2 linked regions of the Homo sapiens genome follow. The protein of the gene in region 1 purifies or fractionates together with the protein of each later gene. This does not show direct contact. Each region holds a gene or a part of one and is shown on either strand. Other genes may lie near its edges.

Region 1 (16,074 bases):
AGCCCCTTCAGCCAGGGAGCCCCGAAAGCCAGGAGCCCCGACAGCCAGGAACCATAACAGCCATGAACCCCGGGAGCCAGGAGGCCCGCAGCGGAGTGCCCAGACTTGGCAGGGTCAGAGCCCCCCAGCGGGATCCAGAGCCCGCCGCCGAGGCCCCTTTTGGGATTTCTCAGGCTCGGCAGCCTCAGCGCAGGCAGGGGCGGGGCTTTCCCTCGCGCAGCCGCTCAGCTCCCCGTGGCCCCGCCCACATCCGGCCGCCGGCACTGGATTGCTTCTGTCTGGCGGCGGCAGCATGGCGGCGGGGGCGGCTGAGGCAGCTGTAGCGGCCGTGGAGGAGGTCGGCTCAGCCGGGCAGTTTGAGGAGCTGCTGCGCCTCAAAGCCAAGTAAGCGGGGCGGCGAGCGGTAGGAGTGAGGAGCCGGAGCGGGAGCGGCCGCGAGACCGGGCCGGTGTGGGGCGGCGGGTGGCCCAGCCTGGCTTCTTGGTGCCCGGCTCCCTTCGGCCTCGGGGGACCGGGCCCGGCGCCACCCGTAGACTCCCCCGAGCCTCCGCGTGAGTGGCCCGAGCCGCAGGTTCCCCGCCCCGGAACAGCGAGCAGGGCGCGAGGCTCGCCTGGAAGCCCCGGCCCCAGCCCTGGCTCCGACCCCGACGGCTGTCCAAGCCCGGGGGACGCGACCTTCCCGGCCTCTGGCCTGGGCGGCCCCGCCGCGGGACGGAGGCGGTGGTGACTCAGCCGTGCCGCAGTGGCGGGGCGGGGGACGGGGCGGCGCCGAGACCCCGGCCCTCCGCGCCACGGAGCGGGACCCACGGCTGCGGGCTCCACCTTTCCTGTGCCCGCCGGGAGGGAGCGGCAGGCTCGGCGTCGGCCCATTGCTCTTCAGCCTCCCTTCAGGAACGCCCCTGTCGCAGGAAGAGCGGCGAGGGAAGGCCCCGTTGCATTAGCTAGGCCTGGCTGCCTTTTGAAGTCAGCCTTTAAAGTTTGTTGGACAGCAGGTAGCCTCAGTCTTCAGACTTAACCTGTTGCCGGAGACAGAGATTTCCTGTTCCATGAACTGGTGTAGTGAGAGTCTGTTCAGATTTGGCGCCGGTGTCCAGGTCTTCAATCCCTGGGAAGACTACAAAAGGAGATCCAGAGGAATGCATAGAAAGCGTTTTCTGGGTGGACTAGAAGCTCTGAACTGCAAGCATGCTTACGAGTAAATGCTTACTAGCGTGCGTGCCTGCAGGGAAAGGTCTGCACGTGGACTCTCCGTGATAATACCACCTCACATTGTAGACTACTCCAAGGACTGAGTTGTTCTCTTAGTTGTATTATTAGCGGTTGTTATGGGAACTCTTATGTCGGATTGCCTGGGATCCAGTCCCACCGCAGCCACTCAGTAGCCATGTAACCCCTGGGCACGTTTCATGCCCAAGCCTCAGTTTCCCGACGGTGACATAGATTAGCACCTGTTAGTACCTCAGGGTTGTTGTGAGGGTTAAATGAGATGACGTATGTAAAATACAAATAATACAATGCCTAGTATGCAGGAAGCACTCAGTAGATGTTGGCACTTAGTATTTCAGTAGGAAGTAGAATGGTTCATGGAATTCACAGGCAAAAAGCTTTGTTTTGTTTTGTTTTTGAGACAGGGTCTGGCTCTGTCACCCAGGCTGCAGTGTAGTGGAGCGATCACGGCTCCCTGCAGCCTCCGCCTCCCAGGCTCAAGTGATCGACCCACCTCATCCTCCCGAGTAGCTGGGACCACAGGTGCTCACCACCACGCCCGTCTAATTTTTATTTTTTTTTATAGAGACGAGGTCTCGCCATGTTGCCCAGCCTCGTCTCGACCTTCTGGACTCGAGCGATCTGCCCTCCTCAGCCTCCCAAAGGGTTGGGATTACAGGTGTGAGCTACCACGTCCGGCCAGAAATGCTTATTGATCTAAATTTTGTTTTGTTTGTTTTCGAGACAGGCTGTTGCTCTGTTGCCCAGGCTGAGTGCAGTGGCGTGATCTCGGCTCACTGCAGCCTCTACCTCCTGGGTTCAAGCGATCCTCCCACCTCAGCCTCCTGAGTATCTGGGACTACACGTGCGGTCCACCACGCTGGGCTAATTTGTGTATTTTTCGTAGAGGCAGGGTTTCCTCATGTTGCCCAGGCTGGTCTCTGGAACTCCTGAGCTCAAGTGATTCGCCTGCCTCGGCCTTGTAAAGTATCGGGATTACAGGCTTGAGCCCCCGTGACCTGCCCTGTTGATCTAAATTGAGTGAAATTTTGCCGACTGAATTTGAATTAGAGGCAAGTAGTACTCTGATTTTGCAATGGAGAGTGCAGGTGAGATGGGGTGTTGCCTTTGGAAATGGGGAGGGGTGCGAGTTACTGACTAATGGTTAGAAATGCTTTATGGGGGTGATGAAATTAAAGTGTTATTTAAACAGCTCTTTAGGCATTTCAGGTTTACCTGGGAAATTGTTACGGAAAAAAGCAGGGGTTGGGGAGGGACATGTGACATTTACTCACTGATGGAAGCTGGGCTCTGACTCATCCAGTACAGATCAGCACAATCACAGGAGTCACCAGAAGTGGCCTCTTGAAATGAGCAGGTCTTGTGTGGACCTGCCCTAAGTAAACGTTTTGAATTTACCATCACCTGAAAGGCTGTTTTGTCTGTTTTACATGTTTGTTTTAAATGCTTCATGTTTTAAAAAGTCCTTAAACTATCAAAATGAATAAAAGTGTTTTTTTTTTTTTTTTTTTTTGGGGGGGAGACAGAGTCTCTCTCTGTTGCCCAGGCTGGAGTAGAGTGCAGTGACACAATCTTGGCTCACTGCAACCTCTGCCTCACGGGTTCAAATGATTCTCCTGCCTCAGCCTTCTGAGTAGCTGGGATTACAGGTGCCCGCCACCACGCCTGGCTAATTTTTGCATTTTTAGTAGAGATGGGTTTCACCATGTTGGCCAGGCTGGTCTTGAACTCCTGACCTTAGGTGATGGGCCCGCTTCCCAGCGTGCTGGGATTACAGGCATGAGCCACTGCGCCCGGCCAAAATGGATAAAAGTTTAAATGTAAGTACCATTTGGATGTTGTATCCTTGCCGCTGGCCTGTACTTGAAATGGCCCAGGAAACAATGTGCACTTTCCTTAGTGACTAGTTCAAACGGACACGTGATAAATGATGTGTGGCATCTGGGGAAGGAGCACATTTCTGCAGCTTTTTTGGTGAAGATGGAGACATTTAAGAATATTAGGCCGGGCGCGGTGGCTCACGCCTGTAATCCCAGCACTTTGGGAGGCCGAGGTGGGTGGATCACGAGGTCAGGAGATCGAGACCATCCTGGCTAACACGGTGAAACCCCGTCTTTACTAAAGAAAATACAAAAAATTAGCCAGGCATGGTGGCAGGTGCCTGTAGTCCCAGTTACTCGGGAAGCTGAGGCAGGCGAATGGCATGAACCTGGGAGGCGGAGCTTGCAGTGAGCCAAGATCGTGGCACTGCACTCCAGCCTGGACGACAGACGAAGACTCCATCTCAAAAAAAAAAAAACCAAAAAAAGAATATCATGGTGGCTTACACCAGCAAACCCAGCACTTTGGGAGGATGGCTTGAGGCCAGGAGTTTGAGAGTAGCTTGAACAACATAGAACCCATCTCTACAAAAAATAAAAAAAGTAGCCAGGCATGGTGATGCATGCCTGTAGTCCCCAGCTACTCAGGAGGCTGAGGTGGGAGGATTGTTTGAGCCCAGGAGTTCCAAGCTGCGGTGAGCTATGATCCTGCCACTGTACTCCAGCCTGGGTGACAGAGTGAGACCCTGTCTCAAAAAACAAAAAGTGCCCGAATTTTAGTACTTGTGTTGATGTAATAATTTTAAATCTACTTTCCAAATCATCGCTTCTCCAATTTTAAAATTTGACATGAATTGAAATTTTTTTCTTTTAAGTAGTTGAATCAGATATTTACATAAGTTGCTGAAATCTCAGCTGGTTTGTACAATGGGGTTATTAATATCCATTTGCAGAGTAAGCAGGTTTAGTATATGATATGTTTAATAAGCAGTAGCTGGTATCTGCAGATGAATGTAGTAGCAGAATACTATAATAATTGAAAAACAACTATTTGCTGATGAAGAGCTGAAGTTTATTACATTGTCTAAAGTTACATTAGTCAGGATTTGAATGTGGTTTTTGTCTGATGGTTTTTCTCCAACAATGCTCCAGGCATATGGGGCTATCCATTAAGATGGAAAGAATACTGTAACATGTAATCCAAAAGGGGATAACGTTTATATTTGTTTCAGATATAGTATGTCCTTATAATATTGGACATTATGTGCTTAATTGAGAAATGGAAGGTAAGCATTAAATAGGAGAATATTGTGGATAATTTCAACTAACAATATCATGTTTTAATGTTTTCAAATGTTTTATATTTTTGTTTCATCTTCTCAACATCCCAGAGTGTTGGTTATTGCTGTTTTACAGATGTGGAAGTTAAATTACTCTTCAAAACCATGTTAGTAATAATGAAACTGAAATGAATTCAGTTTCTATGGCATACTTTCTTCTTTTCTTTTTTACTTATTTGGGCTCATACTATTATAAAGTTTGGTAACCTACTTTAATTTTTGAAAAATGTAGTTATATTAGTATTTTCCTGTGGCGTTGAAAGTTCTTTGAAAATTTGATTTGTAATGGCTTTATGTTTTCTTATGACCATTTAAAAACTATTATTGAGCATCAGAAATTTTTCTGATTTGCTACGTAAAGTAGTGGGAAAATATCCATGTACAGAAAATCTTTGTCTCTTAATTACTTCCTTAGGATTGATACTTATGTGTAAGAAATTTCTGAAAGGTCCCAATTTAATTTTTACCAGCAGGACATGAAAGTACTTCTCGTCATCCTTTTTATCATTGAATATTATGATTTAAACAGTCCTTTTGTTGGCTGGGCACGGTGGCTCATGACTGTAATCCCAGCACTTTGAGAGGCGAATGCAGGCAGATTGATTGCTTGAGCCCAGGAGTTTGAGACCAGCCTGGTCATTGGCCAAAGCCCAACTTTACAAAGAACAAAATATGCCTGTAGTCTGGGAGGCTGAGGTGGGAGGATCACCTGAGCCCAGGAAGTCGAGGCTGCACTTGCCTTGCACTCCAGACTGGGCATTAGAGTAAGACCCTGTCTCAAAAAAAGAAAAAAAAAATTTTTTTTTTGGTCAATTTGGTGGAAAATGGTATCCCAGCTTTAAAAAGAAATTGAAGTATTACATACAGTAACAATGCACAGATCTTAATCGTCAGATGTGGTGAATTTTCACAATTGTATACACACCGATAACCACCATTCACAGGAAGAATATAGAACCCAGGAAGTTTTCCATCCCCTTTAGCCCAGCTACTGATTTCTTACTGTCACTGTAGATGAGTTTTCCCTGCTCTTGGACTTTGTGTGAGTAGAATCATACAGTTCTTTGTCTGTGTTATCTTTTGCTCACATATTTTCAAGCTTCATTTGTGTCATTGCTCATGTCTGTGGTTGGTTCCTTTTTACTGGTAAGTTACATTCTGTTGTATGAATGTCTATCACTTTCTCCTGTTGGCGGACATTTGGCTAATTTCCAGTTTTGATTTATTATGTATAGGGCTGCTGTGAGCATTCTTGCATGAGGCCTCTGTGAACCTCTGTTTTGTTCTTGCCATCCTTAGGCAATGGACAAAAAAGCTTCCCTGGATCCTCTTCATTGCTGGAGGCTATGGTGGGCAGAGGCTCCTGAGGGAGGGTTTTGAGGGGTCAGGCCTGTGTTCTAGTTTTAGGGCCAGAATTCAGTTCCAGGGCCCCAGACAACTGCAAGGAAGACTGAAAAATGTAATCTAGCTGAATGCACAGGAGGAAGATGAAACAGTGCTTGATTGAAACAGCACAGTCTCTGCCGTGGACCTGAGGCCCCACCTACTCAACCATTGAAGCTGCTGAGTTGTGCTGGATGCAAATTAACATCCGGTGACTAGGGGCTCCTACAATGTGTCCTTCCCTGCCTTAGGTGGGTCTTCATTTGGAGCTTCCTGCTTTCCTTGTGTGCCTGTGGACACTCTCCCTTCATCAGTCCTACCAGTGGTCTTGCCCTCTGTTTTCCTATGCTTTGATAAATGACCTTGCTTCCCACCTGAGAGAAAACAGGATTTCAGGTAGCATCTCCCCAAGCCCTCCTTCCACTCTCACCTCTCCCAACACTTACCATTTATTTGTAGCCTTACCCATTCTTAATTCCTTGGCTCCTGACTCAGAGGAGACTGCCTTCTTCTTCTTCAAGGTAAGCTCTTCTCTGCTCTGGATTTCCCCTCTCCTGCCTCTTCTGAGTCCTTGCATCCTCAGCTGTCTTGTGTCTACGGCCCTTCCCTCTCCATTTGCACTATCCCCTAGTAAAATAAACATATAAGGATTTTCTTGTATTAAAAAGGCCCATCCCTTGATTTTGTCTTTTTCTCTGCCTGTACAGATCTCTTAGAGTACATCTCTGCTTCCTCATCTTCACTTCAGTCCTCAGTGGACTGCAGTCTGACCTGTGCTTCTGCTATTCCATTGAAGGTACTCTCTCTGTTAGTTGCCCTTTCCTGTTGCATTGGATGATTGTCACTCCCTCTTGACACTCTTCTCTTGACTTCTATGTGACCCTTCAATCTTCCAGTACCGCCTAGGACCCCTTAATCTTCCAGTACCGCCTAGGACCCCTTCTCTGCTTTACTACATAAGTTCCTTCTCCTCCATCTGTCCTAACTTAATGTTGATAAGCCCCCTGAGGCGCTGACCTCGGGTCTCCTCTGTGTCCCTCTGTAACCCTTTGCGGTGTGGTGCTGGCACTGTTCCTTTCTTGATTCCCAAATCTGTATATCAGGTGCAGACTTCTTCCCTGAGCTCTAGACATCATACTAACAACCCATTAAACTTCCTTTCCTCAGGTTGGCAGCTTCTGCACTATGATTTGAGGCATAGTGCCACCACTAGCCATCAGTCTCTAAGCCAGAACTTGGAGCCAGCTGTAGACTGCCTTATCTGTCACCAAATCCTGCCCCTTCTACCTTCGAAATCCTCATGCTGCTCTTTGCTTCTGCTTTCCTGACACTTTATTGTAGGCTTATTCTCTTCTCGCTGGTATTATTTGATCAGTTTTTACAGTTTGTTATTCCTTTCCTTACCCATAGGTTAGTTGTCCTTGGTTCTTTTTGCCATGGAACATATTTCTGTTCGTGATTTTTCAGATTTTTTTGGGAGGTGGTATTATATTTGAACAGAATTCCATAAAACTGAAGGATTTTTTAGTTGGATATGACCATAGATATCTTTGCCAAGATAATTTTGTGTGAAAACTAACTAAAATAGATACTGAGTTATTAATATATTCTGTGTGTTCATACTATAAATGTTTAGAATTTTTTTTTTTTAAATGGGTCTTGCTCTGTTGCCCACACTGGAGTGTAGTGGTATGATCATGGCTCACTACAGCCTCGACCCCCTGGGCTCAAGTAATCCTTCCACCTTAGTCTGCCAGAATGCTGAGTACAGGCATGAGCCACCTTGCCTGGCCTAGAAAAATCTTTTTTTTTTTTTTGAGGCAGAGTCTTGCTCTGCCATCCAGGCTGCAGTGCAGTGGTGTGATCTCAGCTCACTGTAACCTCTGCCTTCTGGGTTCAAACAATTCTTCTGCCTCAGCCTCCTGAGTAGCTGGGATTACAGGCATGCACCAACACACCCGGCTAATTTTTTGTGCTTTTAGTAGAGTTGGGGTTTCACCACATTAGCCAGGCTGGTCTCGAACTGCCGACCTCAAGTGATCTGCCTGCCTCGGCCTCCCAAAGTGCTGGGATTACAGGTGTGAGCCACTGCTCTGGGTCTAGAAAAATCTTTTGTAGCATAATATTAAAAAGTATAAAAAAAAGTCTTTGTGAAAAGCAGTTCTATTCTTTTCCTCGTTTTGCACTGGCATGCCTTCATTTTCAACACTTACTGCTGTTTCTATGGTCACGGTTATGTCTCTCCATCACTATACCACATTTAAAAAGTAAATAATGATATTATTAGTAATGTGTCTACAACCATTTTTCACAAACATTGTGCCATTAATACAGAAATTCAGTTTCCACTTTGCCCAGGGGTCTGAAAATATGGTTGATTTGCCTGGCTTTTTTTTTTTTTTTTTCGTTTACTTTAAGTTCTGGGATACATATGCAGAATGTGCAGGTTTCTTACATAGGTATGCATGTGCCATGGTGGTTTGCTGCACCTATCAACCCATCATCTAGGTTTTAAGCCCTGCATGCATTAGGTATTTGTCCTAATGCTTTCTCTCCCCTTGCCCCCCACCCCCTGACAGGCCCTGGTATGTGATGTTCCCCTCCCTGTGTCCGTGTGGTTTCATTGTTCACCTCCCACTTATGAATGAGAACATGCAATGTTTGTTTTTCTGTTCCTGTGTTAGTTTACTGAGAATGGTGGCTTCCAGCTTCATCCATGTCCCTGCAAAGGACATGAACTCATTCCTTTTTATGACTGCATAGTATTCCATGGTATATATGTGCCACATTTCCTTTATCCAGTCTGTCATTGACAGGCATTTGGGTTGGTTCCAAGTCTTTGATATTGTAAATAGTGCTGCAATAACATAATGTGTGCATGTGTCTTTATAGTAGAATGATTTATAATCTTTTGGGTATATACCCAGTAATGGGATTGCTGGGTCAAATGGTATTTCTGGTTCTAGATCCTTGAGGAATTGCCACACTGTCTTCCACAATGGTTGAACTAATTTACACTCCCACCAACAGTGATTTACATGACTTTTAATTGAGGTGGATGAATATTCAGATCTACTTCAAATGGGCTTCACTTGAAATATCATTGAATTGAAAATTTATCTGAAAGAGTCTCAAGACCTTGCAGAGTGCTTTTATGTTCCAGTGTTGTATACAACAAAATTCTAGCAATATGAAAAACTTCAGACGGTTCTTTTAAAGCTTTCTTTTTTTTCTTTTTGGTAATTTATATCAGTATTTGTGTATTTCCAAAATTGGTATAATTTTAAATAAATGCATTTAATTGATTTACAGGTCCCTCCTTGTGGTCCATTTCTGGGCACCATGGGCTCCACAGTGTGCACAGATGAACGAAGTTATGGCAGAGTTAGCTAAAGAACTCCCTCAAGTTTCATTTGTGAAGGTATTTATATTTCAATGTCATGTCTTTTGTGAATTTAATTCTGATTTATGGGTTAGATTAGGGCTGGGTGCGGTAGCTCACACCTGTAATCCCAGCACTTTGGGAGGCTGAGGCGGGCAGATCACCTGAGTTCAGTAGTTTGAGACCAGCCCAGCCAACATAGTGAAACCCTGTCTCTACTAAAATACAAAAATTAGCTGGGCGTGGTGGCGGGTGCCTATAATCCCAGCTATGTGGGAGGCTGAGGCAGGAGAATCTTTTGAACCCGGGAGGCAGAGATTGCAGTGAGCCGAGATTGTGCCACTGCACTCCAGCCTGGGTGACAGAGCGAGACGCTGTCTCTAAATAAATAAATAAATAAAATAAAAAATTAGATTTTATTAACTAATATAAAGATGGAGTGGTATGGAATTCCAAATATGTATAATTGGTGTGGGATCTGTTATTTTTGCACATCATTCTTAAAAATCTTAAAATAATTTTGCATTTTTTTTTTTTTTGAGACAGAGTCTTGTTCTGTCGCCCAGGCTGGAGTGCAGCTCCAGCTCACTGCAACCTCTGCCTCCCCGGTTTAAGCGATTTTCCTGCCTAAGCCTCCCGAGTAGCTGGGACTACAGGCACATGCCACCACACCCAGCTAATTTTTTGTATTTTTAGTAGAGATGGGGTTTCACCATCTTAGCCAGGATAGTCTTGGTCTCTTGACCTCGTGATCTGCTCACCTTGGCCTCCCAAAGTACTGTGATTAGGCGTGAGCCACCACGCCTGGCCAAATGTACACTTTTCCTTGATCATCCTCGGGTGTGAGGCATGACTACCAAATGTCAAGGTGGCTGTGGGCTGGAGTTTTGGAGAGCACAGGCAGACAAATTAGTTCCCTGTGGGTAACTGTGGTTTTAAGGCATTTAAAATAGTAACACAAATTATGTCATTGAAAAGCTAGGTGTGCTGTAGAAAATAATTCAGGAAGGGGTATGTAAATGCTGCTAGGGACCAGGGAACAGGAAGTTGCTATCTTGGTTTAGATGAAGGCAGACCTCCGGGAGAAGGTGAAAGTCTTTCTAACCTGTTCAGAATGTAGAGGAAGATGGAAGCCAGTCAGTCTCTTCCTTGCCTCTTTTGTTTTTCACTCTGGTTATGTGTACTCCTACATTCCTGCTGTCTCTCTTGAGTGGATGAGTGCTAGGAAAGCTGTAGTTTTGACTGTGGATTAACTCAATTGGTTTAGCACGTTAAAGATATTATTCAGGACTTAGTACTGGTTTAGGCAGCAGGGCCAAAATATGTGTTGAGAGTCTTAGAAATGAATTATCAGGAGGGGAGGTGCACCTTGTATTCCCAAGCCTGAATCCTTAAGATTTAAAAAACAAATGAAAAACCAAAGTCTTATTTTTTAAAACAAGAATCTGTGAGTTCAGAGTACATGTTACCCAATATACTCATATATGGGATTAAAAATAACATCAACTGTATTGGTCTGTATGCCTCTTTCTATGTAAACTGAAAACACAGAATTTTGACAGGGTAATTCATTCGTATAGTAGGTGATAAAATTTTCAGGAGGCTTCTGTATAAATAAGTTTGCTTTGAATAGGCATTATACTCAGTTGGCTCAAAATTCCAAACAGTGTAGAAAGATGTCCGTTGAGAAGGCCCACCCCGTTCCTCTGTTGTCACCCTTGTGTCCCACCACATAAGTAACTGCTTGTATTAATTTTGTATGAATCCTTCTAGTGTTTCTTTATGCAAATAGGGCAGATGTGAATATAGTGATTAGCTTTTTAAAATTTAAGGACTTATTTAAAATTCCAATGAAATGTATAATGTAACTGTAGAGTGTAACCCTAAAATGTCCAATATAAATAATAGAAGGGGGCATTAAAACTGCATGTTTGGTCAGTGATAAAAGATAATGATTACAAGTGAAATGAATGATTAAACATTTCAATCATAAGATTAATCAAGATGATGGTAATTGTTCTAAGTCTGCTTTTATGTGTATCATGTTACTGGTTTAGGTAACACATTGTTCTTAGCTGCTATCTGAATGATTTATTTAAAGTGACTATAGAATTACTTCTCACATTGGTACCAGACTTGGCAGTGAGATTTTAAGTTGTTCAAGTGCTTAAGTATCTCTGTGAGCCAAAGGTTGGAGGAGCCCTCAGCGATTTTGGGTTGTGGGGGATACCTGAGCCTGACTGCACCTGCCACTCATGAGGATGATGACAGCGTAAGATTGGTCATTCTTCCAGGAGTCATCACTTTCCAGAAATTCACTCTATAACATAGTTTTTCTTTGATTAGCCATCATTAAGGGCAAAGGTACTTTCCATGGCATTTGTAAGGCAGCTAATTAAAAGGCACTTGCCGGACAATAGTAAGCAAAAGAGAAGTAGAATGAGAGATCATCGTTCTTTCCCAGTAAGAGAGGCGTGCAGGCTGGGCGCCTCGGCTCACACCTGTAATCCCAACACCTCTTGAGGCTGAGGTGGGAGGATTGCTTGAGGCCAGGAATTCAAAACCAGCCTGATGCACATAGCAAAACCATCTCTACAAAAGAAAAACTAAAAAAGTTAGCTGTGCATGTTGGTGTGCACCTGTAGTCCCAGTTACTTGGGAGGATAAAGCAGAGGATTCCTTGAGCCCAGGAGGTCTCAAGGCGGTCACACCACTGGACGTAGAGTGATACCATGTCTCAAAAAAAAGGAGGAATGTAGTTCATTTTAAAACAGCTTTCTTTTTGTTAATGAGAGTTTTTGGAAAGTTCTAGAGTATGAACTAATGTTCTTCTGCTTCATCTTGTGTCTATTTGATTTCTTAGTCTTTTTTTTGGAGACAAGGTCTCACTCTTATTGCCCAGGCTGTAGTGCAGTGATCTTGGCTCACTGCAGCCTCTACCTCCCAGGCTCAAGCAATTTCTCCACCTTAGCCTCCCGAATAGCTGGGACTATAGGTGTACACCCCTGCCCAGCTAATTTTTGTATTTTTTGTAGCGATACGGTTTCACCATGTTGCTCAGGCTGGTCTTGAACTCATGGGCTCAAGCAGTCTGCCTACCTTGGCCTCCCAAAGTGCTCAGATTATAGATGTGAGCCACTTTGCCCTTCAGTCTTTTTTTTTTTTTTTTTTTTTTTTTTTAATGATGAAATGGTTTGGCATTTTTGGCTTGTGAAGTAAAGGGATCAGTTCATTTTTGTGACTGGGATTTATAAAATCATTAAATAAGTGATCATACACTAGATATTTTTAAACAGATTGTAAACTTTTGTGACTATCAACAATTTCTTATTTTGTAGGAGCTGGTAAAAATAGAGTTAGAAGAGTTAGTCACCCATTTTTGGTCAGAGTAGTTAGTTTGTGCTCTTTGGAATTGAATGCTGAAAGACAAGGTTTTCATATTTATTGCATCTGAATCCCTCATTCTCTGTATTGATGATATGGTCGTAAAGTGTATTTGGGGTGGGGCACAGTGGCTCACACCTGTAATCCCAGCACTTTGGGAGGTGTGAGTGGGAGGATTGTTCAAGGACAGGAGTTCGAGACCAGCCTGGGCAACATAGGGAGACTTCATCTCTACAGAATAAAAATTTAAAAAACTAGCTGTGTACACCTGTTGCCCCAGCTACTTGGGAGGCTGTGGTGGGAGGATTGCTTAAGTCCAGGAGTTAGAGGCTGCAGTGAGCTATGATTGTGCCACTATACTCCAGCTTGGGTGACAGAGTGAGACCTTGTCTCTTAAAAAAAAATTAAAAAGTGCATCTGTACTCCTTTTGGGTGCTGTGTTTATAATGGGTGGTGTTCCATTTACCTGAGTCACTGCCATGTCTAGTGGGCTCTTCTGGGCTCCGTCCTGAGTTTGTCACACCTCCTAGGGCCCAGAGGAGATGATGTGGTATTTCTATCACTAAAAGGAGTTCAAGACCAGCTTGAGTAACATGGTGAAACCCTGTCTCCACTAAAAATACAGAATTTAGCCAGGCATGATGGCGCATGCCTGTAATCCCAGCTACTCGGGAGGCCGAGGCAGGAGAATCATTTCAACCCAGGAGGTGGAGGTTGCAGTGACCCGAGATCGCGCTACTGCACTCCGGCCTGCGTGACAGAGCAAGACTCCGTCTCAAAAAAAAAAAACAAAACAGGAAAAGTCTTAGAGAAACCTTGTGTTTATTCAGAATAAAATGAAATAGTTAAAATGTTTTAGTGCCTTTTATTTTCAAATTACATAGTCAGTATCTTCTCTCATACTGATTCTTGTTTGTATCTTTACCCAAAATAGGAGTACACCTTTGTCATTTAATTAATTGTTTGATATAATCTTCCAAAATATGGTATCTGGCAGAGGGGGGTGGGAGAGAGGAAGAATAGCACAAGGCTTTGTTGGGTGCCTGCTGCTGGTTGTATTTGAGATCCAAATCAACTATTTTGTATGAAATCGTAGCTATTTTTTCCTGTAGCTTTTTTTTTTTTGGTCTCTGTGCCATTGGTTGCTTGGATCAGGAAATGCCCTATATTTTTGTCTATATTGTCATTTAATTCCTTTTTTCATTGCCTCCTTGACTAGATGGTGAGATACTTGACATGGGGACCTTTACCTCATCAGGTTTTCATTAGTAAAAAAAAAAAAAAAAAAATAGGGCCGGGCATGGTGGCTCACGCTTGTAATCCCAGCACTTTGGGAGGCCGAGGCGGGTGGATCACGAGGTCAGGAGATTGAGACCATCCTGGCTAACACGGTGAAACCCCATCTCTACTAAAAATACAAAAAAAATCAGCCAGCTGTGGTGGGACATGCCTCTATTCCCAGCTAGTCGGGAGGCTGAGGCAGGAGAATTGCTTGAACCCAGGAGGCGGAGGTTGCAGTGAGTTGAGACCACACCACTGCATTCCAGCCTGGATAACAGAGCAAGACTCCATCTCAAAAAAAAAAAAAAAAGAAAGAAAGAAAAAGAAAAAAATGACTTTCCTTTGTTCGAATGGCTCTTGCTTTCCATGCAAGCCTCCCTGATCCCACTTCCAGCTTACTGCTCCCATCCTGCTAGGCCATAGTATACTCATTTTACCATATCATGTACTTCAGTGCAAACATTCTCAAAGTCAGACTTACCAGCTAGCTGGTTGGTGAGATTTTATACTATTGTATTTCATTTGACATTAATTTTGTTTATATAGTAGCTGCTGTACTTGCATTTTATTTTCATTGTAATTTAAAATATACGATCAAGGGTATGGAGGAGTTACGTATTTAAATGTATTTTTGCTTCTTGAAAAACAAGAATCTTTATTCTTATTTTGAAAGTGCGACTATCTTAAAGATACAGATTGCACTGTTGAATTTCTAAAGATCTGTACAATCATTATAAATGTAAATGTAGTTTATGTTTAATTTCTGAGTGTATAATTACTGTATGTAAACAGATAGTGTTGGGCAATCTTCCGAAGGGTACCAACTAGCTGTATAACCAGGTGCATGCTAACTAGTGGAATTAAAATTTTTCAGTGGCAGAGAATGTTGGCCAATTTATTTGGCATCTTAAGAGAGCATATGTTGGATTTCATTCTACAGGAAGGAACTCTAAAAATGCGTCTCAGATAATTCTGGTAGAATTGTTTTTTTTTTTTTTTTGAGACAGAGTCTCACTGTGTCGCCCAGGCTGGAGTGCAATGGCGTGAACTCAGCTCACTGCAACCTCTGCCTCCTGGGTTCAAGGAATTCTCCTGCCTCAGCCTCCTGAGTAGCTGGGATTACAGGTGTGTGCCACCACTCCTGGCTAATTTTTGTATTTTTAGTAGAGACGGGGTTTCACCGTGTTGGCCAGGCTGGTTTCGAACTCATGACCTCGTGATCCGCCTGCCTCGGCCTCCCAAAGTGCTGGGATTACAGGCATGAGCCATCGTGCCCGGCTCTGGTAGAATTGTTAAATCTTAAAAAGACTGTAGGTTTTTATCTGTGCTATCTTGGTAATTAAAAAAACCCAAAATTAACATGGTTTTATTAGCTGTTTCTGGGCTAAGTTTGGTGAAAGTATTTAAAGAAGTTATCAAAACTTTTTTTTAAAATTATTATTATACTTTAAATTCTAGGGTACATGTGCACAATGTGCAGGTTCGTTACATAGGTATACATGTGCCATGTTGGTTTGCTGTACCCATCAACTCATCATTTACATTAGGTATTTCTCCTAACGCTATCCCTCCCTCAGCCCCCCACCCTCCAACAGGCCCCGGTGTGTGATGTTCCCCTCCCTGTGTCCATGTGTTCTCATTGTTCAGCTCCCACTTATGAGTGAGAACATGTGGTGTTTGGTTTTCTGTCCTTGTGATTGTTTGCTGAAAATGCTGGTTTCCAGCTTCATCCATGTCCCTGTAAAGGACATGAACTCATCCTTTTTTTATGGCTGCATTATATTCCGTGATGTATATGTGCCACATTTTCTTTATCCAGTCTATTATTGTTGGTTTAAAGTCTGTTTTATCAGAGACCAGGATTGCAACCCCTGCTTTTTTTGCTTTCCATTTGCTTGGTAGATCTTCCTCCATCCCTTTATTTTGAGCCTATGTTTGTCTTTGCACATGAGATGGGTCTCCTGAATACAGCACACCGATGGGTCTTGACTCTGTCCAATTTGCCAGGCTGTGTCTTTTAGTCTTTTAATTGGGGCATTTAGCCCACTTACATTTAAGGTTAATTTTGTTGTGTGTGAATTTTTTTTTTTTTTGAGACGGAGTCTCACTCTATTGCCCAGGCTGGAGTGCAGTGATGCGATCGGTTCACTGCAACTTCCGCCTTCCAGGTTCAAGCGATTCTCCTGCCTCAGCCTCCTGAGTAGCTGGGATTACAGGCACCTGCCACCATACCCAGCTAATTTTTGTATTTTTAGTA
Region 2 (16,168 bases), on another chromosome or scaffold:
TAGGAAACAGGGAATCCCACGGAGGAGGGAGGCAAAAGGCATACTGAGGATGCAGGTAAATAGAAATTCCAGAACAGCTGTGCAGCAGGCCTGGTGAGCAACAGGTCCAGACTGGAACAGAGAAGAGAGGATTCCAGAAGGCTCTCTGGCCCGGTGTCACTATCTTTTTTTTTTTTCCTTGAGACAGAGTCTCACTCTGTTACCCAGGCTGGAGAGCAGTGGCGCGATCTTGGCTCACTGCATCCTGTCTTCTGGGTTCAAGCGATTCCCATGCCTCAGCCTCCCAAGTAGTGGGGACTACAGGTGCATGCCACCATGCCTGGCTAATTTTTGTATTTTTAGTAGAGACGGGGTTTCACCAGGTTGGCCAGGCTGGTCTTGAACTCCCGACTGCAGGTGATCCTCCTGCCTCCTCAGGCTCCCAAAGTGCTGGGATTACAGGTGTGATCCACTGCACCCGGCCTCACTATCTTTTCTTGAATGTTTTTGGAAAGGCACATGCTGCCTTGCTCACCTTGACCTTCAGGTCACACCCTCCTGTCATTTACTCTCGTAGCACTGTGCACCGTCCCTTCACAGCACAGATCAGTGTGGTCATTAAACATCTATTTCTGTGATTTCCTGATTGACGTCTGCCTCACTCACTGCTGTCTTAGCTTTGTCAAGGTGGGGGCTGTGCTATTCTGGCTCATTATTGAATCCCCCTTGCCAAACACGGAGTAAGTGCTTAATACACACTCATTAAAGCACTGACGGAAGGAGTGCTGCGTTTTCATACATACCAGAACAGCGAATATAAATTCCTGGCACCTGCCCCCAGGTAAAATTAAGCCAAGGATTGCTGGGAATGTAAAATTGCACAGCCCCTATGGAAAACAGTATGGCAATTCCTCAAAAAATTAAAAATAGGATTACCATATGATCCAGCAATTCTCACTTCTGGGTATATACTCTAAGAACTGAAAACAGGGTCTCGAAGAGATATTTGTCCACCCAAATTCATAGCTGCATTATTCACAACAACCCAAACATGGAAGCAACCCAAGGGTCTGTCCACTGACCGGTGAACAAATAAGCAAAATGTGGTGCATACACACAATGGAGTATTATTCAGCCTTAAAAAGGAAGGGAATTCTCATACAGGCTACGACACGGGTGAGCCTTGAGGACATGATACTAAGTGAAATAAGCCAGTCACAACAAGACAAATACTGTGCGATTCCACTTGTATGAGGTTCTTAGAATAGTTCAAACCAAAGAGAGAGAGAGAAAAGGCAGCTTGGTGGCTGCCAGGGATTGGGGGCGGGGGAAATGGGGAATCAGTGTTTAGAGGGGTTAGAGTTTCAGTTGTACAAGACGAAAAGAGTTCAGGAGATGGATGGTGGTGATAGGTGCTCAACATTATGAATGTATTTAATATCACTCAGCTGTACACTTAAAATGGCTAGGATGGTAAATTTTATGTTATGTGTATTTTAACACAATTTTTTTTTTTTTGAGACGGAGTCCCGCTCTTTAGCCCAGGCCGGATTGCAGTGGCACAATCTCGGCTCACTGCAAGCTCCGCCTCCCAGGTTCATGCCATTCTCCTGCCTCAGCCTCTGGAGTAGCTGGGACTACAGGCGCCCGCCACCGCGCCCGGCTAATGTTTTGTATTTTTAGTAGAGACGGGGTTTCACCGTGTTAGCCAAGATGGTCTCGATCTCCTGACCTTGTGATCCACCCGCCTCGGCCTCCCAAAGTGCTGGGATTACAGGCGTGAGCCACTGTGCCCGGCCCACAATTTTTTTAAATGGGGAAAAAAAAAAGCCAGGCACAGTGGCTCACACCTGTAATCCCAGCACTTTGAGAGGCCGAAGTGGGAGGATCGCTTGAGTCCAGGAGTTTAAGACCAGCCTGGGCAACATAGCAAGACTTGTGTCTCTACAAAAAATAAATTAGCCAGTTGTGGTGGCACATGACTGTAGTCCTTGCTATTCAGGAGGCTGAGGTGGGAGGATTGCTTGAGCCTGGGAGTTCAAGGCTGCAGTAAGCCATGACTGCACTACTGTACTCAGCCTGGGCAACAGAGTGAGGACCTGTTTCAAAAAAAAAAAAAAAAAGGACAACACTGGACGCAGTGGCTCACACCTGTAATCCCAGCACTTTGGGAGGCCGAGGCGGGCGGATTACCTGAGGTGGGGATTTTGAGACCAGCCTGACCAACATGGAGAAACCCCATCTCTACTAAAAATACAAAAATTAGCCAGGTGTGCTGGCACATGCCTGTAATCCCAGCTACTTGGGAGGCTGAGGCAAGAGAATCCCTTCAACCCGGGAGGTGAAGGTTGCAGTGAGCCGAGATTATGCCACTGCACTCCAGCCTGGGCAACAGAGTGAGACACAACACATAAATAAATAAAAAAGGAAAACAAAATTATGCCAAGGACTGGATCCTATCTATTGGTCCCTTTTTGTAGATGCTCTCAAACCCACTGACTGGATTACTATTCAGCAAACATCCACTCCTCTCCCTCTCCCATGGGGATGGAATATTCTACACAGACCCAACCTGCAGCCTCAAACCAAGCCCTGGCAATCTGCATTATAAAGCTGAGCTGTCCAGCCAAGCCCAGCCTATCAAAAGATGACCCAGAGACCAACGATTAAAAACATAAGTGCTTGGCTGTGCGCAGTGGCTCATGGCCTGTAATTCCAGCACTTTGGGAGGCTAAGGAAGGAGGATCACTTGAGGCCAGAAGTTTGAACCAGCCTGGCCAACATCGTGAGACCCTGTCCCTTAAAAAAAAATTATTTTTATTTTTATTTATTTATTTATTTTGAGACGGAGCCTTGCTCTGTTGCCCAGGCTGGAGTGCAGTGGAGTGATCTCGGCTCACTGCAACCTCTGCCTCCCAGGTTCAAGCAATTCTCCTGCCTCAGCCTCCTAAATAGCTGGGATTACAGGCGCCCGCCACCATGTCCGGCTAATTTTTGTATTTTTGGTAGAGACAGGGTTTCACTGTGTTGGTCAGACTGGTCTAGAACTCCTGACCTTGTGATCCGCCTGCCTTGGCCTCCCAGAGTGCTGGGATTACAGGTGTGAGCCACTGTGCCTGGCCAAAAAAAAATTTTTTTTAAAGCTGGGCATGGTGGCACATGCCTGTAGCTACCCAAAAGGCTGAGGCAGGAGGATTGCCTGAGCACAGGAGTTAGAGGCTGCACGAAGTTATGGTCATGCTACTCCTCTACACCTTGGTGATTTCTATAATGAAGAGCTGGACTCAATCATTAAGCTTCTTTCCAGTGCTAGGATTCTGTGGTCTAGAAAGATCTGTACCCCCTTAGATTGGACACCCCCTTCTCACCTGGGTGTGGCTTAGCAGGGGGAGGGTAGCGTGGTAGGCTGAGCAGAAAGCCTGGCTGGCTTCCCAGGCCTGCGCTTCTGCAGAGAAGTAGTAACAGTGCTCCTCGGACAACACCCAGCCTGGGGGGCACTGCTGGCATCTGGCTCCTGCAAGCACAGAGACTGCTGGTGAGCTGCAGGGTAAGCTGCATTAAATAAACAAAGCCTGGCTGCTGCCTCAAATGAAGGGGCATGGAACTGGCAAACCTCAAGGTGGGCAGGGCCCCAGGGAGCTTTTATAGTCTGTGCAGTGCACAAAGTCCCCGGGGTGGCAGCTGGCATCTGATTGCTTATCAGGGCACAAGCTGTATCCAGTGGGAGGAAGGCACCCATTTTCCTTAACTTTGCTCATCAAGCACCATGTCTTCGTGTTGCATCTCCCAGTGTCTCTTTCTAATTCTAAGGTGTTTTAAGGGCTGGAAACACAGCCCCAGTAGTGGAGCGGCAGGGAGAGGGGATGGGGACTGCAGGGACACCATACCTGCTCTTGAGGCCAGGACCACAATGACAACCCCAGAGACTGCCAGGAGCACAGCCATGAACGCCAGGGCCCAGTACAGGGACTTCACGTACATGGGTAGCCCTGGGACGGGGGCAAACAGGATAATCAGATTAGTGGAGACCATCCCAACCAACCCAACTCAGAACCACAGACACAGCACACCAGCATCTCACCCACCTCACCCCAGCACCCACCCCCTCAGCCTGGGATGCCAACATAAACCACAACGTTTAAGTTCCAACTTTATATTCTGGAGAAAGAAGCCAGATATTCTTTTTTTTTTTTTTTTTTTTTTTGGAGACAGAGTCTTGCTTTGTCGCCCAGGTTGGAGTGCAGTGGTGCGATCTCGGCTCACTGCAACCTCTGCCTCCCGGGTTCAAGCAATTCTCCTGCCTCAACCTCCTGAGTAGCTGGGGTTACAGGTGCGTGCCACCATGCCCGGCTAATTTTTTGTATTTTTAGTAGAGACGGGGTTTCACCATGTTGGCCAGGTTGGTCTTGAACTCCTGACCTTGTGATCTGCCCACCTCGGCCTCCCAAAGTGCTGGGATTACAGGTGTGAGCCAACGCGTCTGGCCCTTTTTTTTTTTTTTTTTTGAGACTGAGTCTTTCTATCGCCCAGGCTGGAGTGCAGTGGCATGATCTCAGCTCACTGCAACCTCCACCTCCTGGGTTCAAGCAATTCTCATGCCTTAGCCTCCCAAGTAGCTGGGATTACAGGTGACTGCCACCATGCCTGGCTAATTTTCATATCTTTAGTAGAGATGGGGTTTGACGATGTTGGTCAGGCTGGTCTTGAACTCCTGACCCTAAGTGATCCGCCCGCCTTGGCCTCCCAAAGTGCTGGGATTACAGGCGTGAGCCACCGTGCCCAGCTTCAGGAGCCTTATATGTGGAAGAGGAAGACAGGTGGTGAGCATCAGAAGTGGCAGCAGGAGGACTCTACCAACAACGCTGGATTTTAATATAGAGAAGGGCTTGACCTAAGAAAAGCCCAGAAGCTAGCAAAGGCAAGAAAAGGGAGTCTCCCCTAGACCCCCAGAAAGGAATGCAGCCCCACTGAAAACTCGATTTTAGACCAGTGAGCCGGCATTATAGACTTCTGACTTAACGGAACTGTAAGATAATACATTTGTGTCACTTAAAGACACTAAGTTTGTGGTAATTTGTTACAACAGCAATAGAAAACTAATATTCCATCACACAGAAAATGTGCTCACATCAAACTCTGCAAAAGTTCCTGAGTGATCCAAGCCCCTGAACCCTAGCCCTGTCTAAGAACCTCTCAACTAGAGGCCCTGGGAATTTGGTGCCTGTCAGTGGGCTTGGCCTGCTTCTCAATCAGCCAAGCTTTTGCCAGTTTGCCTGCTGGGCGGGGCTCTGACCCCTCCTGGCCGTTGCTCCTTCCAGTCTCTCTACCTAGCAGGGATCCCTAGCACCCCCTACTCCTACTCACCTTTCAAGATGTGGCTTTCTGGCTGGCCCGGTGGTTCACACCTGTAATCCCAGCACTTTGGGAGGCTGAGGCGGCTGGATCACCTGAGGTCAGGAGTTCCAGACCAGCCTGGCCAACATGATGAAACCCCCTGTCTACCAAAAATACAAAAACTAGCCAGGCATGGTGGCCGGCGCCTGTAATCCCAGCTACTCGGGAGGAGGCTGAGGCAGGAGAATCGCTTGAATCCAGGAGGCGAAGGTTGCAGTGAGCCGAGATTGTGCCATTGCACTCCAGCCTGGGTGACAAGCGCAAAACTTATTTCTTAAAAAAAAAAGAAAGAAAAAAGAAAAAAAGAAAAAAATTGGCTATCTCTTGCCCCAAATTCACCAACTACTCCCTCCAGTCTCCTTATCCAGGACAGTCTGTATCTTTTGTGGGCTCTTTCTTCTGTGTCAAGCTCCCCCTCCCCCACACCACAAAATAACCAGCCGCACATACTACTGGCACATCTACCCTGTGGTCCCACTCACTATCTACTGAATGGATGAGTGTTTGGGGCTAAATGTTCCTCAGTGTGGTGGAAAGAAAGCAGCAGCCTGGACCTTCCAGAAAGTCCTTGGCAGTGCAGGGATGGGGGGATCTGGGCTGCCACCCCTGCCACCTGATCCTGAATGACTTCCCCTCATCTGGAGTTCCTTCCACTGCTACTTCTCAAAGGTGCTGCGCATGCTAAGAGGGAATTTGAAAGTTCGGGAGTGCGGGTAGGGGAGGATGAGAAGGGGAGTGGCTTTACTCTTTTTTTTTTGAGACGGAGTTTCTCTCTTGTTGCCCAGGCTGGAGTACAATGGCATGATCTCGGCCCACTGCAACCTCCGCTTCTCGGGTTCAAGCGACTCTCCTGTCTCAGCCTCCTGAGTAGCTGGGATTACAGGTGAATGCCACCATGCCAGGCTAATTTTTGTATTTTTAGTAGAGACGGGGTTTCATCATATTGGTCAGGCTGGTCTCGAACTCCTGACCTCAGGTGATCCGCCCGCCTCGGCTTCCCAAAGTGCTGGGATTACAGGCGTGAGACACGGCAACAATGTGAATTACAGTTACGTAGACAGGAATGTTATTGATTGTAAGCCCGAGAGGCCAGATCGGGTTGGGGATCGGGATGGCCAACTGGGTCCCTTAGTCGGTCAGCTGCCCAGCGGTCCAGGGCTGGGCGGGTGTGGGGGTTTCGGCTACGTCCACCCGACCTGGCGGCGTCGGCTGCCGGCGCAGGTGAGCACTCACCCGTAAGCGTTACGGCCCGGGGCAGCTTCTCGTCGCCGTCCAACCCCGCGCGGGGCAACAGCGCCGCATCCTCCTTCTCCAGCCCCAGCTCCTTGCAGCGGCAGCACGTGGGGGAGCCCGGGGAGCCGGCGCTTCCTTCCGCGGGGCTGGCCCGGCCCTCTGCGTCGCAGCCGCTCTCCGTCCGGGCTGCAGCCAGCGGCGAGCGGCGGCCCCACGTGCCGCCCTGGGATGGTGCGCGCAGCAGGAGCTGGTGCGCCGGGTCCGCGTGGCGGGAGAAGGCAGGGGACTCGGGCACCGGCACCTTGAGGAAGCGCGTGGAGGGCCTGGGCGATGGCGTGCTGCTGCCACCGGCCGCGCCCACGGGCTTCACGCGCACATCTACCTGCAGCTCCATGGGCGCCCAGGCGCTGGGCGCAGGCTCAGCCCCGGGCGCCTCGCCATTCCGGGGCAGCTTGACCAAGGCAGGGCCCGGTGACGGCGGCTCGGGGCAGACCCCGTAGCCCAGGCTGAGCGGCGGCACGCGCGGGGACCCGGGGCGAGGCGAAGGCGGCTTTTTCTTGCTCGAGGGCTCCAGGCCTGCGCCCGCCGCCTTCTCCACGGCCCCGGCCGGACTTGGGCTGCTTTCGGGACCTTCAGGTTGTCGCACCTTCGCGGGCACCTGCGGCTGCTCCAGCGTGGGGACCAGGCTTCCCACGGGCTCCATTGGGAGCTCTGCCCCGGCTTGGCCTCCGGGCGCAGCCTCCCAAGACTCCTCCATCCCGCGCGCCCCGCCACCCGGAGACGCTGAGGAGCGCACCTGGGCCCAGTGCAGAGGAGCTTCGCTCTCCTCCGTCCGGATTGGTCCAGCCGCGTCGCCGAAGTTGTCAGGCCACGCCCCTCCCCGAAGGACCCCGCTGTGATTGGCTGTGGCTGAGGTTCTGCTGCCCCGACCCCCTTCGGGACACAGCCCCGGCCTCCACCAGGCACTGGGAGGGAGCTGAGAACGGCAGCGGGGCCAGGCGAGGGTTGCAGGGTGGGCGGGAGCTCTCGGGAGAAAAGCAGAACACCAGCGGAGGCTTGTGGCAGGGAACCCGGAGCCCCGCCTGACCCTTCCCTCTTCTTTGTCTCTGACCTCACCCATTTTCCCCTCCAGCCCTATGCCGGGGTGTTGGTTTTGAGAGTTACAGTTTGGGCGGGGAAGGATTGGCCAAGCCTGTCTGGATCCTGGGACCTCAGAGAAATCAGAATCCAAAGGAATTGGGGCGACCTGTGGAAAAGTAGCCCAGTTGGTTGTCCTGACAATCCAGCAGGGTTTCGAAAGGACTCTCCATCATACTTGGGAGGACTCCCCCACTGAGTAACGCTAAGAGAAAAGAAACAGGGCGTGGATAAGCAATTCTTCTTTTTTTTTTTTTTTTTGAGACGGAGTCTTGCTCTGTCGCCAGGCTGGAGTGCAGTGGCCCGATCTCGGCTCACTGCAATCTCCGCCTCCCAGGTTCAAGCGATTCTCCTGCCTCAGCCTCGTGAGTAGCTGGGACTACAGGCACCCACCCCACCACGCCCGGCTAATTTTTGTATTTTTAGTAGAGACGGGGTTTCACCATGTTGGCCAGGATGGTCTCGATCTCCTGACCTCGTGATCTGCCCGCCTCGGCCTCCCAAAGTGCTGGGGTTACAGGCGTGAGCCACCGCGCCCCGCCTGGCCTCTGGTATTTTTAAGTGCCCCCAGGGTAGGGTTGGCAGATAAAATGCAGGCCACTCAGTTTAATTTGAATTTCAGTTAAACAAGGGATAGTTTTTAGCATAGTAGTCCTCCCTTATCCACTGGGATAGTTCCAAGACCTCCCAGTGAATGCCTGAAACTTTGGATAGCACCAAACCCTATATATACTGTTTTTTTCTATACAAGCGGTCTTCAAAAGGTTCATGGAAAATTCATACTATGAAAAAAACTATGCATGGATTTGAAAATTTTTTGGCACCAAAATAAATTTGTACTAACTTGTTATCACATGTCTCGACAAGATCTAGTTTGAGGCACTAAGAAGGATAAGACATCAGTTTGAAAAGAGCTCCTGTCAGAGCAACAAGGATTCTGCTAAATTTGAAGCAAGAATAATCATCACATTTATGGTGACATCATTGATATTTTTATGAAAAGCTCATGGGGACAATGCCCCCAAGAAACCAGCAGTTTGCAAATGGAAAACTCGTTTTAAGAAGGGATGAGGCCAGGCGTGGTGGCTCAGCCTGTAATCCCAGCACTTTGGGAGGCCGAGGCAGGTGGATCACTTGAGGTAAGGAGTTCGAGACCAGCCTGGCCAACATGCTGAAATCCTGTCTCTACTAAAAAAGCAAAAATTAAGCTGGGCGCGGCAGCTCACGCCTGTAATCCCAGCACTTTGGGAGGCCGAGGTGGGCGGATTGACTGAGCTCAAGAGTTCAAGACCAGCCTGGGCAACACAGTGAAACCCCGTCTCTACTAAAATACAAAAAATTAGCTGGCATGGTGGCATGCGCCTGTAGTCTCAGCTACTCGGGTGCCTGAAAATACAAAAAATTAGCCGGGCGTGGTAGTGGGTGCCTGTAATCCTAGCTACTCGGGAGGCTGAGGCAGGAGAATTGCTTGAACTCGGGAGGCAGAGTTTGCAGTGAGCCGAGATTGTGCCACTGTACTCCAGCCTGGGTGACAGAAGGAGACTCCATCTCAAAAAAAAAAAAAAAGAGAAGGGATGAGACAATGTTGAGGATAAAGCCCTCAGTGGCAGACCATCCACATCAATTTTTGAGTAAAATAATTAATCTTATTTGTGCCCTCATGAAGAGGACCAACGATTAACAGCACAAACAACAGCCAACACCAAAGACGTCTCAATTGGTTCAGCTTACACTTTTCTGACTGAAAAATTAAAGTTGAGCAAAGTTTCCACTCTATGGAAAACCATTGCGTCCAGATCAGCTGCAGCCAAGAGCAGAACTTTCAATGGAAATTTAAAACGAGTAGGATCAAGATCCTGAAGCATTTCTCTGAAGAGTTGTAACAGAAGATGGAACGTGGCTTTACCAGTAGGATCCTGAAGACAAAGCACAAAGCAATGGCTCCCAAGAGGTGGAAGTGGCCCAGTCACAGCAAAAGTGGACAGGTCAAGAGCAGAAGTCACAGCAACAGTTTTTTGGGATGCTCAAGGCATTTTGCTTGTTGGCTTTCTAGAGGGCAAAAGAGCAATAACATCTGCTTACTATGAGAGTGTTTTGAGAAAGCCAAAACTTTAGCAGAAAATCACCTGGGAAAGCTTCACCAAAGGGTCCTTCTCCACCACTACGAGGCTTCTGCTCATTCCTCATCAGTCAAGGGCATCACTCAACATGTTCAAGTTTTAAATGCCTCTTTGGGCCCAGTACCCTCCTCCTGCTAACACCCTCTCTATTCTTCCTTGTCGTGGCCAAACTTTTTTTTTTTTTTTGAAAGAGAGTCTTGTTCTGTCACCTAGGCTGGAGTGCAGTGGCGTGATCTCGGCTCACTACAACCATGGCCTCCTGGGTTCAAGCAATTCTCGTGCCTCAGCCTCCCAAGTAGCTGGGATTATAGGTGTGCACCATCACAACCGCTTAATTTTTGTATTTTTAGTAGAGACAGGGTCTTGAACTCCTGACCTCAGGTGATCTGCCCGCTTCAACCTCCCAAAGTGCTGGGATTACAGGCGTGAGCCACCACACCGGGCCATGACCAACCTTTTTTAACAAGGTAATTGCCCCCATCTGTCTGCCAAAATTTTCCTTGGCAAGGGTACAAGTCACCAAACCCAGCAAATGCTTTTTTTCCATTTTTGGAAAAAAAAGATATATATATATATATATGTTATATTTTATATATATTATAAGGATGGAGGAGTCTCGCTATGTTGCCCAGGCTAGTCTTGAACTCCTGGCCTTAAGCCATCTTCTCGCCTCGGCCTCCCAAAGTGCTGGGCTTACAGGTGTGAGTTACTGTGCCCGGCCTGCAGATGCTCTTCAGTGCTCGTTTTATCTCTCAGGTTTTGACATTATGATCATTTCTTCCTCCTCTCAAAAACCCACTCATCTGTGGCCTGTGGGCTTCCTGACACCACCTCTACCAGCTCTCCTTCTGCCTTCCTGGCTGTTCCTTTGAAAATTGCTGCAGAGCTTCTCACCCACCATACGTCAGTGACCTTCAAGCCCAGATCTTTCTCCTGAGCTTAGGTTCTTCTTTGCAGGAATTTGACACTAGATATGAGAGACCCAGAGCCGAGTGTTGTCAGAGCTCCTAGTAGGGCAGCTCCCTAGAGAGAAAGCCCAGAAACTCCTGCTCTGGGCCCCAGAGTTTGTCCGATCTCAGCCCTTCCTAAAGCTTGTTTGTTCAATTCTGTGGATTTCACGAGACCCTGAGTATCCTTCTCATACCTCCTCCACTTTTTGCCTTATCATTTAAGACTCTGGGTCAGGCATGGTGACTCACACCTGTAATCCCAGCACGTTGGGAGGCCAAGGCAGGAGGATCACTTGAGCCCAGGAGTTTGAATCTGGGCAGCATAGGGAGACTTTGTCTTTACTAAAAAAGCAAAAAGTTAGCTGGGTGCAGTGGCATGCACCTGTGGTCTCAGCTACTAGAGAGGCTGAGGCGGGAGGATTGTTTGAGCCTGGGAGTTTGAGGCTGCAGTGAGCTGTGATTGTGCCACTGCACTCCAGCCTGGGCAACAGAGTGAGATCCTGTCTCACAAAAAGAAAGGAAGGAGAGAAAGAGAGTAAAGGGGAGAGGAGGGAAGGAAAGGGGAAGACAAAGGGGAAGGGGAAGGGAAGGGTGAGGTGAAGGGGAAGGGGGAGGGGAGGGTAAGGGTAAGGGTAAGGTGAAGGTGAAGGTGAAGGTGAAGGTGAAGGGGAGGGGGAAGGGAAGGGGGAGGGAAGGGAAGGTAGATAAAAGGAAGGAAGGAAGGAGGAACTGATTGCAAGTGGCCGAAAACCCAAGTCTCACTGGGCTCCACGTCTGTCTTGGGGTGAGGGCCAGGCTTCGATGGAGTCTCTCTATACCTCCTGTGACACAGCACAGCAGCCTGGCACCAGAAGGCCATTTACAACTTCTAAATTGAGACATCCTAAGATAGGTGAATTACCCAAATGTTTCAAGGGGGTTCAGATGTTGGCTGGCAAAAAAGAACAAATATCTACCGTGATCCTTCCTTTCATCCTTTTCTCCCTTTCCCTCACTTTAAAATCCTGTTTTCTGCTTGCAACAGCAATGTATGTCTGCAATACAAAATATAGATATTACAGAAGTGCATACTGTAGAAAAGAAAGGTCCCCTGTTTTCTATGCTCCAGAGATTTCTGTTATTAACATTTTGGTATGCAGTCTTCAAGATTTTTAAACAAATGTATACACTAACCTGTACTGTTATTATATATATAAATATCTTTATTTCCAAAACTTCACTCATATTAAATGTTTTCCTATATGTAATTTATTTAAGAAGTCTCCTGATGGACGTTTGAGTTGTTTCCATTTGGGTGACATAATTACTGTAATGCTGAACATGATATAGATATAATTCAGTGAGCATACTTGTATATATTGTTTTTAAAAATCACATCTCTGAAATATCTTCAGAATAGAATCATTAAAATGAAATTGCTGAGCCAAAGGGTGGTCAGAATTTTGAATGTGATGGGTACTGCTAAATTACCCACAAGAGGCTCAACAAACAAAGGATGCGAGGGCTGTTCCCGTGGCCGCCCCATCGCTCCGTATCATCAATCTTCTTAGTCCTTACCAATCTGATGGGCAAAAATATTGAATTCCAGCTTGCATTTCTTTAACTATGAATGAAGCTGAACATCTTTTCATTTGTTAGTTGTGCTACTGAGAAGTGTCTTGGACACTGTCAGGGCCTGGATGAAATACCACTAACATTTCCTCTAATGCCAGTTCCAAATCACTGGCTGGTTCCAGGAGGTGGCCCTGCAGGAATCCTCATCATTTTTCCTGCCCCACACCATGAGGTTCACTGGTCAAGGGTGGCTGATGGTATCTGGTCTGTCCGAACAGACTGAGTTCTACAAGCATAAATTAAATTGCAGCTTAATTCCCCAGAGAGGAGGCAAACATTCCCACTCCTGGTTCTTGGCTGATGTCATCCCCGTGGCATCTTGGGCCCCTCTAGGGGCCCTGGAGACACAGATGAGGAAGGAGAGGGGTTTCCGCACAGCCAGCTCCCTGGCACAGCCCATCCCCAGCTCACATTCCACCTGCTCAGAGGCTCAGAGGGTACCCAAGCCAGTGTGACATCCCCTCACACCGCCTAAGCCCCCACCTTGGTCTCTCACCTGTCAGCTGTCTTCCTAGCATTCTCCACAGTCTGTGGTCAGCACGTGCACATGGTTGTTCACCCTTTAATGCTTGTCTCTGGCCCCCTAGAAATCCTCACTGCATCCCCAGATCAGTATCTGACACGCCATCCCTGGTTCTTGACTGACATCTCCGCCAGGAGCTTAGTGAATATTTATTAAATAAATTATGCTGAATGGGGCATTGTGCAGAGTGCTTCACACACCTGGTCTCTCTTCCCCCCCTCAATCTTTGGTTGACACATTTTTAAACATTAAGAAAAATGGAAAGAATAAATGGTGATCACGTGAACGCCCTCCACCTTGATTCAACAGTTAGCATTTCACACATCGTTCTTGTCCTTCTCTCCACCTCTGTGCAAACATTCTCTCTGTTGTTATGGAACCATCTGAGTGTGAGCTGCCGACCTCGTGAAGCCTCACCCTTCAATATTTCAGCGTGCATCTGCGAAGAATACACGTGTTTTCCATAAGTACAACGCCATTCTCACACCAAAGAAATGAACAATAACGCCGAGCCAGGTGATATTTTGGAGACCAAATTTAAATTTTTCTAATTTTTTTTCCAACCAGGTTCCCATCAGGGTTCAAGCATGACATTTGGCTGTTGGGTCCATTTACTCTTCATAATAACTAAAATCCCTACTTCACAGGTGAGGAAACTGAGATTCAGAGAGGTTGAGGAGCTAGTGTAGGGGTGCACGGCTCCTAAGTGGGAAAGCCAGCATGTCATTGGGCAGCTCCGGCTCCCAAACACATCTTTTCTCCCCTTTTGCTGCTTTATGCTCCCCTAGTCCTCCTGGTTCCCCGAATGTTTCATCCCCAGTCTCCCGCTGATTGAGTCCATGCAGGTCATGGGCTGGGGCAGAGGTATAGATGTTGCTCCCGTTACTAACAGACTAGGCCTCACTTTCCAGTTCCTTCAGCCACACCGCACCCCTGACCCCCATCCCCTGTAACTTTCTGAGACATCAGCCATCCAATGGGAGTGACGAGGCAGCCTCATTTTAGTGGAGGATCCACCTGCAGCTGGGCGAGGCAGAGGAGAGAGAGCTAGGCAGCTCTAGGGGAGGAACAAAAGGTAGCTTTAGGTCAAGAGTGTGGGTAAGGCAGGGACTGAGAAAACATTCCACCTGAATACACACAAGCTTATCCCGGGAGAATTGGAGAAGAGCCATGGCCAGCAGGAAAACAGCTCCCTGAGACATCTGTGTGTTGAAACAAAGGCCCTCCCTTGAGGTGGAGGTTGCAGTGAGCTGAGATCACGCCATTGCACTCCAGCCTGGGCAACAAGAGGGAAACTCCATCTCAAAAAAAAAAAAAAAAAAAGGAACATGAGGTCAGGAGTTTGAGACCAGCCTGACCAACATGGTGAAACCCCATCTCTACTAAAAATACAAAAATTAGCCAGGCTTGGTGGCACGCACCTGTAATCTCAGCTACTTGGGAGGCTGGGGCAGGAGAATCACTTGAACCCAGGAGGCGGAGGTTGCAGTGAGCTGAGATTATGCCATTGCACTTGAGCCTGGGCAACAAGAGCGAAACTCCGTCTCAAAAACAAACAAACAAAAAAACAAAACACACACACAAAAAAACTGGATCATGAGATCAGGAGTTTGAGACCAGCCTGACCAACATGGTGAAACTCCGTCTCTACTAAAAATACAAAAATTGGCTGGGCGTGGTGGCAGGCGCCTATAATCTCAGCCACTCAGGAAGCTGAGGCAGGAGAATCGCTTGAACCCGGGAGGTGGAGTTTGCAGTGAGCTGAGATTGTGGCACTGCACTCCAGCCTGGGTGACAGAGTGAGACTCCGTCTCAAAAGAAAAAACAAAACAAAACAAAACCCTCCCTTTTAGAAGCTCCATCCCCAGAATCCTTTCCTGTCCAATGCAGCACTTGTGGGATTGTAATGGTGTGGATAGACAGCTGTGGCTCAGGGATATGGGGGGCAGACCTAGCTCTCCTCTGCATTAGTGTCCCCAGCGTTAGCTGACTTTGTCGAGTCTGGGGTTCAATACTTGGAAAGACCTAGATGGGAGCAGGTAGAAGGACCAGGAGACCTGGGGGAGCAATGGAGTAGGGCTGGGCTTGGATATGTGAGACCAGGAAAAGCACTTCCTTGCATCACAGGTGTGTAACAGACTTTTCCTGCCAGGCTGTGTGGGACTCCTGTCACCAGAGACTGAGGGTAGCAAAGGGAGGAGGTACAAGTGCCCAGGAGCACCTTGGTGAAGAGGTCCCAGATTTAAGGATAATAGTATCTTCTTCCCCTCTGAACTAAATCAGCCCATTATGAATGAGATTTGCTAGTCCAAGAGTCTTGAGGCCTAAGTATCCCCCAAATCAAACAGGCCTTGCAAAAATCTAATCAAAGGCCTAGAATACACCACCAGAAAGTCATGACTAAATGTAGAAAATTGTAGTCTAATCAAATATATTAACAGCTATTATGTGTTCATGTGTGTTTTAAGACAAAGGTGGTAATTATTTCTATAATCAGGAAAAAAAGCCATGAAGAAATCATTTTCAGGGAAAAGTGGGGAGGAGTGGAGAAAAGAGTAGAATATAAGGTCTCCCAAATACAAGAATTTGGCAAGTTTCTCTAGCACTGCCCAAGATAGAGAGACACCAGATATTCTGATTCCCTGAGATGCAAGGGACTCATGCCTGCCCCATGCCACCCACTGCCAGGCTCCTAACACTGAAACCCTAAACCAATATGGGAGGGAGAGCTGGCCTGGGAAGTATCAGGGGTCCTTCACCACTAATGTGCAGGTGGCTGGGAGTCTCTCCTCAGTTTCTGTCTTAGTCCATTTTCTGTTGCTATAGCAGAATACCTGCCAGGTATTCTGAGACTGAGTAATTCACAAAGAAAAGAAAAGGCCAGGTGCAATGGTTCATGCCTATAATCCCAGCAATTTGGGAGGCCAAGGCAGACAGATCACTTGAGGTCAGGAGTTCAGGACCAGCCTGGCCAATATGGTGAAACCCCATCTCTACCAAAGATACAAAAATTAGCTGGTGTCGTGGCACATGTCTTGTAATCCCAGCTACTCAGGGGGCTGATGCAGGAGAATCACTTGAACCCAGGAGGCAGAGGTTGCAGTGAGCCAAGATCACACCACTGCACTCAAGCCTGGGCAACAGAACGAGACTTGGTCTCAAAAAAATAAAAAATGAAAAAAAGGAAAAGAAAAGAAAGTGATTTCTTATAGTTCTAA

The links.
Region 2: the proteins of GLRX3 (region 1) and KLRG2 purify together in Homo sapiens (affinity purification with mass spectrometry; 4 studies listed by BioGRID and IntAct, with this or other methods). This does not show direct contact.

The regions. Positions count from the first base shown.
Region 1 is NC_000010.11:130,136,129-130,152,202, forward strand, and holds the start of GLRX3 (glutaredoxin-3), read left to right. Parts: upstream 1-262; 5' UTR 263-292; coding exon 293-384; intron 385-9,082; coding exon 9,083-9,191; intron 9,192-16,074. UniProt on the Homo sapiens protein: Together with BOLA2, acts as a cytosolic iron-sulfur (Fe-S) cluster assembly factor that facilitates [2Fe-2S] cluster insertion into a subset of cytosolic proteins.
Region 2 is NC_000007.14:139,476,280-139,492,447, forward strand, and holds the start of KLRG2 (killer cell lectin-like receptor subfamily G member 2), read right to left. Parts: upstream 7,395-16,168; 5' UTR 7,364-7,394; coding exon 6,607-7,363; intron 3,969-6,606; coding exon 3,867-3,968; intron 3,494-3,866; coding exon 3,348-3,493; intron 1-3,347.